Linked DNA regions of Homo sapiens: region 1 is linked to region 2. A link means that fine-mapping ties the variant in region 2 to the expression of a gene that starts in the linked region. Tissue or cell type: whole blood. Region 2 holds a variant in brackets; the other region holds the start of a gene. All regions are shown on one strand. Distances are between the middles of the regions.

Evidence for each region. PIP is the estimated chance that this variant, and not a neighbour inherited with it, causes the effect.
Region 1: it holds the start of MTF2, and the variant in region 2 is fine-mapped to the expression of MTF2 in whole blood (INTERVAL, PIP 0.98).

Annotation. Positions count from the first base shown.
Region 1 is chr1:93,075,957-93,084,141 of GRCh38, reverse strand. It overlaps MTF2 (metal response element binding transcription factor 2), which reads right to left and starts at 4,859. Exons shown (of 15, transcript NM_007358.4): 1 at 4,611-4,859. The coding sequence starts at 4,615. RefSeq lists enhancers at 4,816-5,110, 5,047-5,296.
Region 2 is chr1:93,043,401-93,051,585 of GRCh38, reverse strand. No RefSeq gene overlaps it. Among named protein-coding and RNA genes, the nearest start is that of MTF2, 32 kb to the left of the region's middle. The variant C/T (reference allele first, on the strand shown) is at 4,337.

The DNA of each region.
Region 1 (8,185 bases), 33 kb before region 2:
TGACGGACCTAAATGTAAAAGCTAAAACTATAAAGCTCTTTAGATACGGCATCAAAAGCATAAGCAAAAAAAAAAGGAATAAATTGAACTTTATCAAAATTAAGAATATTTGTGCTTAAAAGGACACCATCAGGAAAGTGAAAAGATAATGCACAGGATGGGGGAAGAAAAGTCTGCAAATCATATCTGATAACAGGCTTGTATCCAAGAATAAAAAGACAGTCCCATTTTTTAAATGAGCAAAAGACTTAAATAGACAGTTCTCCAAAGAAGGTATACAAATGGCCAACAAGTATGTGGAAAGATCCTCAATATAATTAGCCATAAGTGAAATGCAAATCAAAACCACAATGAAATACCAATTCAAACCCTAGGATGGTTATAATCAAAAGATAGACAATAATAAGTATCAGTGAGGATGTGGATAAACTGGTGAGATAATCACTCACCAGATAATCGCTAGTGAGCTTGTAGAATGGCACAGCCTCTTTGAAAAACAGTTTGGCAGTTCCTCAAAACACTAATCCGAGTTATCATCTGACCCAGTAATTTCACTCCTAGATATGTGTACCCAAGAGAAATGAAAACATGTTCACCCAAACCCTATACATGAATGATCACTGCAGCATTACTTACAATAGTCAAAATGTGGGAACAACCCAAATGTCCATCAACTGATGACTAGACAAACAAAAAAAGGTATATTCATATAATGAAATATTATTTGACCCTAAAAAGATATGAAGTGACTATAAATGCTACAACATGGCTGTTCCATGAAAACATTAACGATATAGTTTGGATTTTGTGTGCCCGCCCAAATATTCCGTCAAATTGTAACCCCCAACATTGGAGGAGGCCCCTGGTGGGAAATGACTAGATCATGCAGGCAGATTTTCCCCCCTGCTGTTCTCATGATACTGAGTTCTCTGGTTGTTTAAAAGCATGTGGAGCCGCCCCCATCTCTAATCCTCCTGCTGTGGCCACTTCAAGGGGGCCACTTCAACAGGAAGTTTCCTGAGGCCTCCCCAGCCATGCTTCCTGTATGGCCTGTGGAACCGTAAGCCGATCAAAATTATTTTCTTTATAAATTACCCAGTCTCAGTTATTTCTTCATAGCAGTACAAGAATGGACTAATATAGTCATGCTAAGTGAAGGAAGCCAGACATAAAAGGCCACATATTGTACTACTCCATTTACATGAAATGTCCAGAACAGGCAAATTTATAGACACAGAAGGTAGATTAGTGGTTGCCAGAGGATAGTGGATAGGTGAAGGGGACTGACTGTTAATGGATTAAGATTTTCTTTTCTTTTTGGGATGATGAAAATATTCTGAAATTAGGTATGGTGATGGCTGCACAACTTTGTGAGTATACTAAAAAAAATCACTGAACTGTACACCTTCAAAGAATGCATGTGAATTATGTACATATAACTATAGTATATAAATTATATCTCAATAAAACTTATTAACAACTGTACAGTTAAGATTTGTGCATTTCAATATATGTAAACTTCACCTAAAAATAAACCTTTAAAAAATAATAAAAACAATGGGCTGGGCACAGTGGCTCAATCCCAACACTTTAGGAGGCCACAGCAGGAGGACTGCTTGAGGCCAAAAGTTCATGACCAGCCTGGGCAACACAGTAAGATCCCGTCTCCACAAAAAAAATTAAAAATTTAAAAATTAGCCAGGTGTGGTGGTGTGCACCTGTAGTCCTAACTACTCGGCAGGCTAAGGCAGGAGGATCACTTCCGCCCAAGAGTCTGAGGCAGCAGCAAGTTATGATAGCACCACTTCACTCCAGCCTGGGTGACAGAGCAAGACCTTGTCTCTTTTTACAGAAAAAAAAAAAAAAAAGAATGGTTACATAAAAGCTCACTATTCTATTCTGCTCACTTTGTATTATGTTTGAAATATTCCTTAAGTTTTTTCTACCAAAGTGTAAAAACAAAGTAATTTTTTTAAACAACAAAACGTTCCTAATATCCATTTTTTGTTGTTTTTTGACACAGAAGCAGAATCTTATATTTTAAAAAGACTAGAGAGGTCACTATCTTTCATTATTCTATTGCAATGTTATATGAAAACAGAAATATGACAGAAGACATGGTATGTGGTAAAAATGAATACTTCATCTTAAATGTACAAAAAGAATCTGAACTTCCTCAGTTCTCAGGCATTTCCTCATCCTTGGATTCCTGTGGTTTCCATGGTTAATGAATGTAACAATTCCTCAATACATGGATGCAATAACCCCTACTACTGTGCTGTCCAATACAGTAGCACTGCTACATATGGCCATTTAAATTTTAGTTTTAATGAATTAAATTATAAATTCACTTCTTAGTCTCACTAGTTACATTTCTAGAGTTCAATACCCACATGCAGCTAGTGGCTACTGTACTGGATACAGCAGATATAGAACACTGCCATCACTGGAGAAATTTCTACTAGATAGCACTACTCTAACATATAAGAAATATCCACAGGGAAACTTTTACATTCCAATTTAGGATGGTTATACTGGATTTCACAGCAATAAACAAATTTTCCTGAAGAACAGGGAAAACAAAGTACAAAAATATTAACCATCAAAGATCGTTCATGGAAGTGTCGACTAACTAAAACAGCAGTTAAGTTTTACTTTCAGAACCATCAAGCTACAGATGTTGGTCATGGCAACTCCTCAGAGGCAAATTTCTCTGTTAAAATATAGATTAACAATATACTGTCAGTTTCCTCAAGTCAGATGTAAAGATTATGCTGAAAAATGATTAAAGCAAATTATCCTTCAAAGATCCCACAAAAAGGAATATTTATAATCCATGAAATCAAAGAGTTAATGACCCACAGTAAAATACACAGAATGTCTTTCCTAACAGAGCTTTGAGGCAACGGGGATGATTTAAAGAACTATTAAATATAATTGTGTCATCTAGAAAAAAGGCTTAACAAGATGATTTCTGTACAACTAGTTCTAAAACTGTGTATGCATTTCATCCTGATAGTTACACATTTCCGTTAATACCCACTAACATTATAAATGTAGTATCAGGAAGCAGGTGTGTTCTTAATTCAAATATTTAGAACATTTTTAGCACTTTAAAAAACTGCAGGTGAACTAATTTTAAAATGTGAATTCAAATACATTTTTATATTTAGGAATCTGAAAAAACAAGTCATTTTGTATTCCCTCTCAAGTTATAACTAAACTATAGGGCACTTAAAGCCATCAGTCAAAACAACTCCCTTTAAAGCATTTTCAAATCTTAAAAAGGTTATTGTGAATTTAATTACATTTTATCCACATTAACTACTTCTACATACAACTATCTTTGAAATTTACTGACAAAAAAAAAAAAAAAAGGAATTCCCAAGAGAGAATGAAACCATGGAAATTGAAACCAGCTTGTAGGCTAGGTATACAGGAGGGTCACATGGAATCCATCTGAAGGAGAAAGTAACTACTATTACTACCGGAGGTTCTGAAGTCAAATTAAATCAGGTACTATTTACATATTTCTAGCTCTGTACTGACCTCACATGGTGCCTTCCTATGTATTACACACAGGCCTAGCTAGGTTTTCACATTTAAGTTAGTGTTACATGGTTTCTATCTTTAACCAAAGTTAAATGTTTTAAAGAATAGAGTAACATTCCATAAGCCTTTTCCCATTGTTCACAAACCCTTGCTGTTAGTCAGATTACCCCGATAAATCCATCTGTTCCCTCTAATTGCTTCCAAAGAAAAATTCTAGCAACCAAGGACACCAGATTGTAAAACACAGAGTTAGAGTTCTGGCACTACCGAAATATGTTAAGAAATCTTGGCAAATTGGTTAAAATTCCTTGAGCCGTAATTACCTCAGTTGTAAAAATGAATACAATACAAATCTACATCCTAGACGTAGATTATATGAGTTAGGTTTAATTAAACACAAGAAAAGCCTCATATTTTTGGTGAGCTCCAAATATAAGCTACCTAGCTTTCCCCCATCTCACTTTCCCTCCCACCGCTTCCCTTTAAGCTTTCAGGTTGTGCTTCCAACCTCCACTTCAGTGTGTTCCCCTTATCCTTACCAGCACTTACACTCGACCCCCTTTACTCCAATTCCATACAATTCCACCCTCCGATTCCAAGCTGCTACTTCCCTTTGCGCACTGCTAAGGTCCCAGGCAGCCCTCCACTCTGCTCCCCACATTTCCCTCAGCCCCCATTTCCCAACGGCTCCTCCTCTCGGCTCCCCACCCCCTCGTCACCAGGTTCATCCTGCCCCTCCAACCGTCTCCCGCCCCCAGGTTCCTTCCTGCCCTCCAAACACAGCTTCCCCGTCTCAACGTTTCATCTTGTTCCTCCAACAGACTCCCCCAACGACCTCCTCGCTCCTTTAGTCCCTATTTTCTCCCAACACTCAACTGACTACTCCTCTTCATCCATTCTTTTCAATATACACATAAATGCAAAGGCACCCACATACAGGAGCCCCCACCCCCACCTTGGTCCTCCATCTTTCCCTTTTATACTTGCTTCCTTTCTTCCTCCTTCCCCCAACCCCCATCTCCTCCGGAAGAGTCGGTTCCCAGGCCAAGGTCTCTCACCTCATTCGGTCACTTCAGTGGTGCCAACCGCTTCATACAGGAAAAAACAACCAATCCGTCCCCGTGGGCGCTTCCCCTGCGAGTCCGAGCACTTACTGGGCACCCGCCCCACCGGGTACCCGGCACATATGCACGCACAAACCGAGGTCCTTGGAGACAAGGGTTGGGGGTAGAATGAGCGTTCTTACACCGGCCTCAAACACAGCCCACTTCAATACAGCCCCTCGCCATTTTGGTTTCCCGCGGACTGCCGGTGCATTCTGGGAGCGCGGAGCGACTCCGGTGCCGAATGGCAGCTCTCCAAAGCCGCGGGGGGGCAGGGACTGCGCGGCGAGCGCGGAGGAACACCGCGCCCTGCGTCCCCGACTGGGGCTGAACAAAGAAGGACTCTTTAACGTTGCAGTGAGGCTCAGTCCTTCCGCCGCCGGGGCTAACACAATAGTGAAAGCTGCGCTCCTGATCGTCGGCAGGCTGGCACTGTTATACAGGAAAAGGGTCGTGTGCGACCTTCGGTGTGCGTGGTCGTAACGGTGCTCTGTGCATCTTGCTGGGCCGATTTCTTTTCCCTGGAGAAAACCTTAACTGAAGCACGTTTCCTCTACTTTCATCCTAAGGCCTGCTGTTAGAATTTCCTTCAGAGGGGAGAAGACCCAGGATGTCGAGATTAAATTTTATTCAGCGATTCACTGTCCAGTCCCAAACTCCTTATCAGGAGCTGCTTTTATGAAAGACTTTCAGACGATTTTTTTCCTAACGATGAAAGGTTGTTTTCTGTTTACCCGCTTTGCAGTCCTTCCTAGTTGTAATGAAATCTGAGAATAGTCCCCTGCAAAATGGTTTAAGAAAACAGAATTGTTTATTAGTGCAGACCCTTAGCCTGCCCAGATTCTGCTGCCTACAGGGGTCCCAACTGACAAGCTGTGAGATTGTATGCTTGTCTCTTTAACTTACACCTAGATACAACCCAGCTCCTCTTAGTAGCCACGTGTGGAATCTTTATTTATAATTTCGTCAAAATATTTTTAAAGCCATTTTATATTTTTGTCCCATATTATGCCACAGGGATAGTGAACACCATATTTTTTCTGTCTCTGAAAAAGTACCTTTTGTGGTCTAAGCTCATTTGGCTCATACTTCAAAAGGGGTTCCCTCAGCCTGTGATCTCAGAATTTGGCAAATAAGCATATTCGTTTTATCCAATACCATTCAATACTTTAAATATTGTGGTCATACCCTTCCACTCCTCTGCTTCTCCTGAATAATAGTCCTAATCTTTTAAGTCTGTCTTCTTACTGTACCCTCACTGTATCTACTTACCTACTACCTTTCAGGTTTCACTTTATTTCAATTCTCATCATCGTCTCTCATAAATTCGTCTTAAGTGACCTTCATACGTTGGCTGAGGAAAATTTTGACTTAAAAAAAGCAGATGCAGCCGGGCGCGGTGGCTCACACCTGTAATTCCAGCACTTTGGGAGGCCGAGACAGGCAGATCACCTGAGGTCGGGAATTCGAGACCAACCTGATCAACTTGGAGAAACCCCGTCTCTACTAAAAATACAAAAATTAGCCAGGTGTGGTGGCACATGCCTGTAATCCCAGCTACTCGGGAGGCTGAGACAGGAGAATCGCTTGAACCCAGGAGGCAGAGGTTGTGGTGAGCCAAGATCGTGCCATTGCACTCCAGCCTAGGCAACAAGAGCAAAAACTCCATCTCAAAAAAAAAAAAAAAAAAGTAGATGCATTCCCATTCAGGAACGTGGCATTAAGGTAAATAAATAAATAAAATATTAAAAAGTAGATGCAGTACAAAAATTAATAAAGATATTGCACAAACAGATATATTTGCTGTGCAGCTAAGCCTAATCAGAGAACATCTGTTTTGGAGAACGTTTGGTCTAAGTTTTCCTCAACATTTCTGTAAAGTGGTCACCAAGCCTCAACTTCAAAATCTTCAGTGATTCAATACTTCAGACGCATTCATTTCCACCTCAGAAACTCTAATAATTTAGGCTCTTTGGCTACACAAAAGTATTCTAATCCCTTATACATTAGAGAAGTAAATTATGCCTCTATCAAAAAAAAGTGTTATTTTTCTGTGCAAACGTGTGAGTACAAAGGTGTAAGCAAACCAAGTGTTCAGAGATTTAAGGACACTCAGGGAGTCACAGTCAAGTATAAAGAATACCTGTCAGCCAGCCACCAGCAACTCACTCCTGTAATCCCAGTACTTTGAAAGGCCAAGGTAGAAGGATCACTTGAGCTGGGGAGTTCCAGACCAGTATGCAGTCTGAGCCACATAGTGAGACCCTGTCTCTACAAAAAATTTAAAAATTAGCTGGGCCCCTGCCTGTAGTCCCAGCTATTCAGGAGGCTGAGGTGGTAGGCTTACTTGAGCCACAGTGAGACTGCCTCAAAAAAAAAAAAAAAAAAAAAAAAAACCTGCTGTAGTTGTGGTTCCTCGGAAATATAGAGTGAACTCTGATCAGAGTAAACTGTACCCTTTATTGTTGTATGTATTTCTGTGATCATCCTTAGGGTGGTTCATAAGTATTCTGGTTCCCCTCTCTTCCAGACACATAGTAAAATTGCACTCTGGCCGGGCGCGGTGGCCACGCCTGTAATCCCAGCACTTTGGGAGGCTGAGGGGGGCAGATCACTTTAGGCCAGGAATTCCAGACTAGCGTGGCCAACATGGCAAAACTCTGTCTCTACTAAAAATACAAAAATTAGCCGGGCGTGGTGGTGCATGCCTGTAATCCCAGCTATTTGGGAGGCTGAGGCAGAGAATCACTTGAACCCAGGAGGCCGAGATTGCAGTGAGCCAAGATTGCACCGCTGCACTCCAGCCTAGGCGACAGAGGGAGACTCTGTCTCGAAGAAAAAAGAAAAAAAAATTTGCACTTTCTTGCACCCCTGAAGTTAATTGCTTTGACCAATAAAATGGGTGACATGTATCACTTCTCAGGAGAATCTTTAAGAAGCAGAGACACATCTCCCTCCCCCATGCTATGGTAATCATGGAAGCTTGGGTTGAGATAGAATGTCTGTCGCTTTCAGTTCCTAAATGTCTACAATAAGCAGTGACTAGAATTGTGCAATCATCACCACAATCCACGTTTAAAACATTTCCATCACCCCCAAAAAATTCATTATGCGCATTTGCAGTCAACCCTCCTTCCAAGCCCTAGGCAATCTGCTATCTGCTTTCTGACAATTTCATATAAATGGTTTCATACAATAAGTAGTCTTTTGCATCTGGGTTCTTTCACTCAGAATATTTTTTAGGTTCATCTACGTTGTACCAGTCAGTAGTTATTTCTTTTTATTGCCAAATAGACTCCATTTGAATGAATGTACTACATTTTGTTTATCCATTCGCCAGTTGAAGGACATTTATGTTGTTTTCAATCTGGGGCTATTATAAATAAGACTGCTATGAACATTTGTGTACAAATCTTTGTATGGACATTCGTTTTTTATTTTTCTTGAGTAGATCCCTAGAAGTGGAATTACAGAGTTGTATGATAAGTTTATGTTTAACATTTTAAGATACTGCCAAACTGTTTTCCAAA
Region 2 (8,185 bases):
TCCCATGATATCCCTAGTGCCTAGAACAACATCCTGTCAATTAGATGATCAGTATGTATTTGTTGAATGAATAAATGAGTTTTGCACATAAATTTCCATTTTTCACAAAAGCAATAAAGGAAAATGTTTTGTATTTTATTCATTTTTTTTCTTAGAAACAGGGTCTCACTATTTTGCCCAAGCTGGACCTGAACTCCTGGGCTCAAGAGATCTTGCACTGCAGCCTCCCAAGTAGCTGAGAACATAGGTGTGTGCAAAGGTGCCCAGCTTGCCCTGCATTTTACTTAAGGCTTAAACCCTTTCAGTTCTCAGTTCTCAGCACAGCATATTTGGTTAGCTGATGAGACAGTAAAACTAGTTTGTTCTCCTGAAAGGAAATCTTAGGGTACAAACATTATAAAAGTAGGTGGAATATAGTTGCAGAACAACTTAACTTCAATTAGCTTAACCTAATTTAATTCATTAAGCTTTACAAACTAATTCTTTAGCTTTTATTTCCTCAGCTGATTAATGCCTGTGGTCCAGATCTTTAAGACATTTTGTTAGCTTTAAATTTCAGTCTTATTTCAGCCTAAAACTCTCTTATATACAACCACCCAACCAGAAATTGGTAGTTTCTTCTGCTGAGGTCTAGGTAGGATGCTTTATCAAGGATACTTCTTCTTGAGCACACATCAATTTAGCTCTTAAAATGCTTCTTTTCTTCTACTCTTCTACTTTGAAAATATTCTCTTTTTTTCCCCCAGAGACAAGGGCCTTGCTATATTGCCCAGGCTAGTCTCAAGGGATCCACCTGCCTCAGCCTTCCAAGTAGGTGGGACTACAAGCATTCACCACCATGCCCAGCTTGCTTTGAAAACTTTCTAAAGGTTACCTCTAATAGATTTGATCAGCTTAACCTAAAATCTGATTAATCTCTTTAAAATATTTCTTCATTTCTTCTATGTTACCTGCAGTGATTTACATATTCAGAACTTTGAGTACAGACTTGTCAGCCACATGCCTGTGCAAATACTGGGGAGTGGGCACTGTCACCCCGTGTGCCTGAAGGGCCTATCTTTGACCCAGGCAGGTGTTGTAGGCCCTCAGGTACAAGAAGGTGTTAGGATGCATGCAGGCCACATATGTCTGTGCAGACTATATTCAGGATATTGAATGTACGGTAGCAACCTGCCAAGAACTGCAGGCCTTTCATGGCAGTATACACACAACCAGGAGTTTTGACAGAAAACATTCTTCTTTACTTTAAGGCTTCAGAAGACCTCACTCGACTGCTTTGTAATTTAGCCAAGTGTTACAGTGTATAGGTTGTTGCCCATGTTGAATTTTTACTTGTATATGATATACAAAAGATAGCTCAGAATTAATCAGTCTTAAATGTAAGAGCTAAAACTATAAAACCCAGAATAAACTACAGCTGAGATCTTGGATTAGACCATGATTTCTTAGATACGACACCAAAAGCACAAGCAACCAAAGAAAATAAATTGGACTTCATCAAAAAGAAAAAATTGGTACTACAAAGGACACCATCAAGAAAGTAAAAAGATACCATAGAATATTTGCAAATCATATATAATGAAATAATTTTATCCAGAATATGTAAAGAACTCTTACAACTCAAAAAAAAGACAAATTGCCCAATTTAAAAATGGACAAAGGATCAGAATAGACATTTCTCTAAGGAAGAGATTCAAATGTACAAAAAGCACATCAAAAGATGCTCAGCATCATCAACTTTACTTCAACTGGAGGCAACTCTCCATCTTCACAGCTCCCCCGGGGGGTCCCTAAGGCCTTGTGTGACTACATTGTAGCCAAATTCTCCTTCTGCCCAGTCTTGCTTTCTTCCCTTCCCAAACAGGTTTTGATCCCAAGAGACTTTGTAATAAACTCCCTGCATGCTAATTTCCATCTCAGGGTGTTCTTCCCAGAGAACTCAACCTGTGACAAATCTTTAGCCTTCAGCAGAAGTACAGGCCCCTAGTAGGGGCAGTTGTACCCAGCTGCTCATATGAGAGGTACTCCAGGTCAGAAAATAGACGATAATAACTGTAGGGATAAAAAGATGGCCAAACCAAGGAGTCTGGCTCAGTGAGTTCATCCAAGCCAGCATCAGAAAAGGCATGGTGTTTGTGCTATCAATCTTCTGTGCCCAGTTCAGGGCCAGCCTTGGGAAAGAGGGGCCCAGTCCTCTGTGTTTTCTGAAACTACCAGGCTGGTTCTGACCTTTATTTCCATTGTAGTTACTAGATTAATGTTATTTCAACGATCCATATATTTCCCATTAGGAGCTTGTTAACATTAATTGAGTTAATATTCATTAACCCTTTTCCCATTTGCCCAGAGAATACTCACCAGCAGCGCTTGCTGCAGCAGCATTTACCTTGAGATAACTTTGCCATGAAATAGCTCACTTTCATTATTATTTTCTTTCTTTCTTTCTTTCTTTATTTTTTCTTTATTTTTATTTTTTAAGACAGAGTCTCGCTCTTGTCGCCCAGGCTGGAGTGCAGTGGCGTGATCTCGGCTCACTACAAGCTCCACCTCCCGGGTTCACGTCATTCTCCTGCCTCAGCCTCCCGAGTAGCTGGGACTACAGGCAACCGCCACCACTCCCGGCTAATTTTTTTTGTATTTTTAGTAGAGACGGGGTTTCACCGTGTTAGCCAGGATAGTCTCGATCTTCTGACCTCGTGATCTGCCCGCCTCGGCCTCCCAAAGTGCTGGGATTACAGGCGTGAGTCACCGTGCCCAGCCTCATTATTATTTTCACACTGCTCTAGTATATCAACTCTGTAAACAAAAGACATCTTTCAGGCTGACAGTGGTGACTCACGCCTGTAATCCCAGGACTTTGGGAGGCCAAGGTGGGCAGATCACTTGAGGCGAGGAGTTCAAGACTAGCCTGGCCAGTGTGGTGAAACCTCATCTCTTCTAAAAAATACAAAAACTAGCTGAGCGTGGTGGTGTATGCCTGTAATCCCAGCTACTTGGGAGGCTGAGGCATGAGAATCGCTTGAACCCAGGAGGCGAAGGTTGCAGTGAGCTGAGATGGCGCCCCTGCACTCCAGCCTGGGTGACGGAGGGAGACTCTGTCTTAAAAAATTAAAAGAAAAAAAGACATCATTCTATTTATAACATTCTGTTTTTAGTAATGGCATTTCCATTTACAAAATGTAGTAATTCTCTATGGCTAAAAAGGCTAAAAATGTCAAATCCTAGAATACATAGCATTCTTATGCACGATGTTAATTAACATTGTTATTGGACAATTGTTGGCTGAAGATTCATTTGATGAATCCGATTTTTCCAAAATAGATGATTCTGATAATTCAGATGATTCTGTTGTTACTTCTGTTTAGAAATAACTCCAAGAACAGTTTTTATATTTTGTTTTCGCATTGAAAATCATCAGATTTGCTTCAGCCTCAAAGAGGGTGTTTATGGAAAATTAAATGAGAGCACTGGCAGAGAGCTGCACTTTTTCTTTCTAAATGGTAAATTGACCATGTTTTATCAAATAAATATTTTAGAAAATGTACTGTAGATTTATTGTCTTCGTGTGCTATGATCTGCACTAAGGCCTGATGAAAATATTTTACTCTGTATAAAAATCGAGGTCTATGAACAGAGATGGGTTCTGCCCCTTTCTTTTCTGCAAGGATTTGAAGTTGACATAGGGACTTTGATCCCAGGGTCCAACATAGATCAAACATTTTGTCCATAAAACCAGGCTAGTTGGGGTGAGGAATAGTGGCAATAAAACTTTTGTAACCAGCTTGCCTCTGAGCGATGGGAGAATGATCTAGGCCAGGGTTTGTGTAGGATGGAGGCTGAAGAAAACCAGTGCAACAATAAGGAACCATTTCTCCAAGCCCAAGCGGGCAGGTAGAGCCTGGTGCAGGTTAGATTTATAGCCCAAATCAGAGTAAAATGGCAGGGATGTCTAGACAGGAAGTGTCTAAAAGTTACCTTTATCATCTTTGATTTCTAGTGTCTGTACAGTGTATAACATTTATTATATGAATTACTGAATAAGAGTCTGAGTGAGCATGTTCATCTTTCTTGCCACCATACTCCAGGGTTTAGACGAGCATATCATGAAAAGTGATCTGAGAATAAAAGACACTATTCTTAGCATAAAAAAACTTCAAGTGACACTTTTCGGTAAAAGCTCAATTTCATTTGGGCCTTCCTTGGTTCCATTATTATTATTATTATTATTATTTGAGATGGGGCCTTGCTCTGTCACCCAGGCTGAAAGTGCAGTGGCGTGATCATGGCTCACTGTGGCTTTCACCTTTAGCCTCCAGAGTAGCTGGAACCATAGGTG[C/T]GTGCCACCACATCCAGCTAATTTACTTATTTATTTATATATATTTTTTGGTACAGATGAGGTCTCACTATGTTGCCCAGGTTGGTCTCAAATTCCTGGGCTCAAGCCAACCTTTCACTTTTGCCTCCCAAAGTGCTGGGATTACGGGTGTGAGCCACCATGCCTGGCTGGTTCCATTATTCATTTCTAGAGATGAAACAAGCAGAATGGGGTAGAATATTTAGATGGGGATATATCATAGTTTGTTGAAAGGAAGGACAGTGTTTTCAATTTAATTTTCCTTTAATTTTTGGCAATGCCCAATCTTCTATTGGCATATTGGCTGTAACCATTGAGGATTATTATTTTAGAGGAGTAGTTAATAATGACTTATCATTATCCTCTAAATACATTTTAAATGAAAGTACCTTGCTTTTGTTCGTGCTGAAACTCATGTGACACATTTTTCTCAACCTCCCTGTCTTATAATAACTTCCTCTGATTTATCCTCATGCATTTGGGTTTTCATCTCAAAGAAGAGCTGAGTGTCATCTACATTCCACTTTCTGCCTTCAAGTCTCATTTTCTTCATCTGTAAAATAGGATAATAATACATTACTCATAATTACTCATAGGATCGTTGGGAAGATTAAGCAATAAATCCATGTAAAATGCCTAGCATAATGTCTGATGTATAGTGGCATTCAAGAAATGTAAATTACATTTCTCTCTGTTATTGGGTCCTTTGATGATTGAATATGCCCACTGTTTTCTATTTTCTTTTTCTTTTGTTTTGTTGTTAGAACAAGATAAAACTCCTTGATAAACTGCAGACATATTCAACGGTTATTAGCGCTAACCATATGGGCATCAACATTCAGAATTAGAACAATGTAATAATATTGACCTAGTATTCAGTTAGCAATATTGACATACAGAAGATTGAGACCACCCTGGCTAACACGGTGAAACCCTGTCTCTACTAAAAATACAAAAAATTAGCCGGGCATGGTGGCGGGCACCTGTAGTCCCAGCTACTTGGGAGGCTGAGGCAGGAGAATGGTGTGAACCCCAGAGGCGGAGCTTGCAGTGAGCCGAGATTGTGCCACTGCACTCCAGCCTGGGCCACAGAGTGAGACTCCTTCTCAAAACAAATTAAATAAATAAACAAATAATAATAATAATGTTGACCTAATATTAGGTTGACCTATTAGTTTCAGATAAAGTTAGAGTTAGGTCAATATACATTACAACTAAGTTTAGGAATTAATCAATACGTAACTTCTCAGGATCTTCTCTCTTCAACTTTAGACAGGTTTTGATTAAATTAGTCAACAGAAAACTTTAAATATATTGAAATTTAGAAGTACATAAAAACTTGTAAATAAGCAACATTAGTTATGTTTAAAATAATCCTTTTGTCCAGGCACTGTGGCTTAGACTTGTAATCCCAGTACTTTGGGAAGCTGAGGTCAGTGGATCACTTAAGGCCAGGAATTCAAGACCAGCCTGGCCAACATGGTGAAACCCCAACTCTACTAAAAATACAAAAATTAGCTGGTTGTGATGGCGCACACCTGTAATCCCAGCTACTTGGGAGGCTAGGGCATGAGAATCACTTGAACCCGGGAGGTGGAGGTTGCAGTGAGCCAAGGTCTCGACACTGCACTCTAGCCTGGGTGACAGAGCAAGACTCTGTCTCAAAAATAAATAAATAAATACATAATAATAATCCTTTTATCCTTTTGTATAATCCATGTGCTATCCCCTGCTTTTTTTTCTTTTTTTCAAGCTTGTGGGAAGTGGTATGATTATGGACAGGCTATCAAACTTCTAAAAATGAGTTTTCAAACAACCTTTGTAGCTGGAATTAGATAGTTTGGTACCGATCATGCCTTGGCTACTATTAAAATTTCTAAAAGGGGCCAGCCTCAGTGGTTCACACCTGTAAGCCCAGCACTTTGAGTGGCCAAAGCAGGCAGATCATTTGACGTCAGGCGTTCAAGAACAGCCTGGCCAACATGGTGAAACCTTGTCTTTACCAAAAATATTAAATAACTTTTAAAATTGCAAAAACCACAGTTACTTTTGCATCAACCTATACAAAAACTAGCCAGGCATGGTGACACGTGCCTGTAGTCCCAGCTACTTGGGAGGCTGAGGCAGGAGAATCTCTCGAACGCAGGAGGTGGAAGTTGCAGTGAGCCAAGATCACGCCACTGCACTCCATCCTGGGCAACAGAGTGAGACCCTGTCTCAAATAATAATAATAATTGTTATCATCATCATCATCTAAAATGTTATAATCCCTAAAGATCTCCACATCTGATTCTCATATTTTGTAAGTTGCATCTGCACTGCCAGTAAGGTTTTGCTTTCAAATTGTTTAGTTTTGTTTTTGAGTCTTCAGACTTTAAAAAAATTAAACAAGTTATACTACACTGTGTTTGAAAAGAAAAAGAATATAAATGAAAAGGGAAGCCATAAATATCAGTCAACAGACATAGTTGAGAAATTTGGGGAACTCTAGGTCTATACAACTTTCCTAGATTGAACCCTGTAGTCTCAATTGATTTCAATGAGAATTTTTTGTCAAGTGAGGGATGATAATTTTTATATAGATCTCATTCTTACTTTTCCAAGTTTTCACTTTAATTCTGTAGTGGACTCAGTGTGGGTAATAGGCATATTAGATTCCACAAAATTGTGAAAGTTATTGGTCTGGATTTTATTTTAGAGTGCCAACTGTTGTGGTATTCACTTCTGTTTGAATCAACTATAGCGTATAATGTCAAAACAATACATTGGAACCAATAGCTCCCAGGGTAAAAATTATCCGTGTACAGATGGTGGGCAAGAGTGATTACTTAAATTCTAGATATATAAATACCATAAGTACATATTCAGAGTTATGAATGGAGTAAGGATTCCCACAGTATTAATCTAACTTCAACAAGCCACGCAAATAGAGTGAAACACAATCTGTTCTATACATTTTGCACACTCTCAATTGCTGTAACATGAGAAATGGTATTTTAAGGGTAGAAACCCTCAACTGCTTTGAGACCACAAAAGTCCATCAGTTTACAGCTGGAGGCTTCTATCTATTCAGAATGTTTGGTACTCTTACAAACAGTAGCCCCACCGTTAAAATTAATAGATTTTGTATCCTAGGGGGCAAAGTTCTTTAAAGTCATGACATGACTTTTGCTTTGGCCTTGATTTTCCTTTTATTTCTAAGGAGTTTCTGTAAAAGGATTCCTTTGTTAACATATACCATTTTCGTTATAATATAACATTAGTTTTTCCTCTGTATTTTCACAAAAGCAAAAAAAAAATTGTACAAGCCAATACTTATCCCTAAAATATATTTTTCTGATTACAAAGTATTGATGTTATTTCTGAAAAAATATAAAAAGTATAAAACAAAAAATAAAAATTACTCATAATACACATAGAGAATAACATTTTGGTGTCCATATTCCCATATAAAACACAGTCATATGTTGCTTAACGACAGGGTACAGTCTGAAAAAAGCATTGTTTGGTGATTTTGTCCTTGTGTGAACATCATAGAGTGCACTTACACAAACCTACATGGTAGAGCCTACTACACACTTAGGCTATATGGTATAGCCTATTGCTATACCATAGCACCATATAGGACTATGAATTGTCCTATAACTAAATATGGTACTAAGAACATAGAAGACAATAAATGCTTCAATTTATGATAATTAGGCATTGAGCAAAACTCTGATTTTCTATACCAGTTCTTCACAAGATGCCTATTAAATTGAGTTGAAACATTGATGGGATTGGTGTCTGCAAGAAATATTCTGGAAATACTAAATTTTATAATTTAATGTT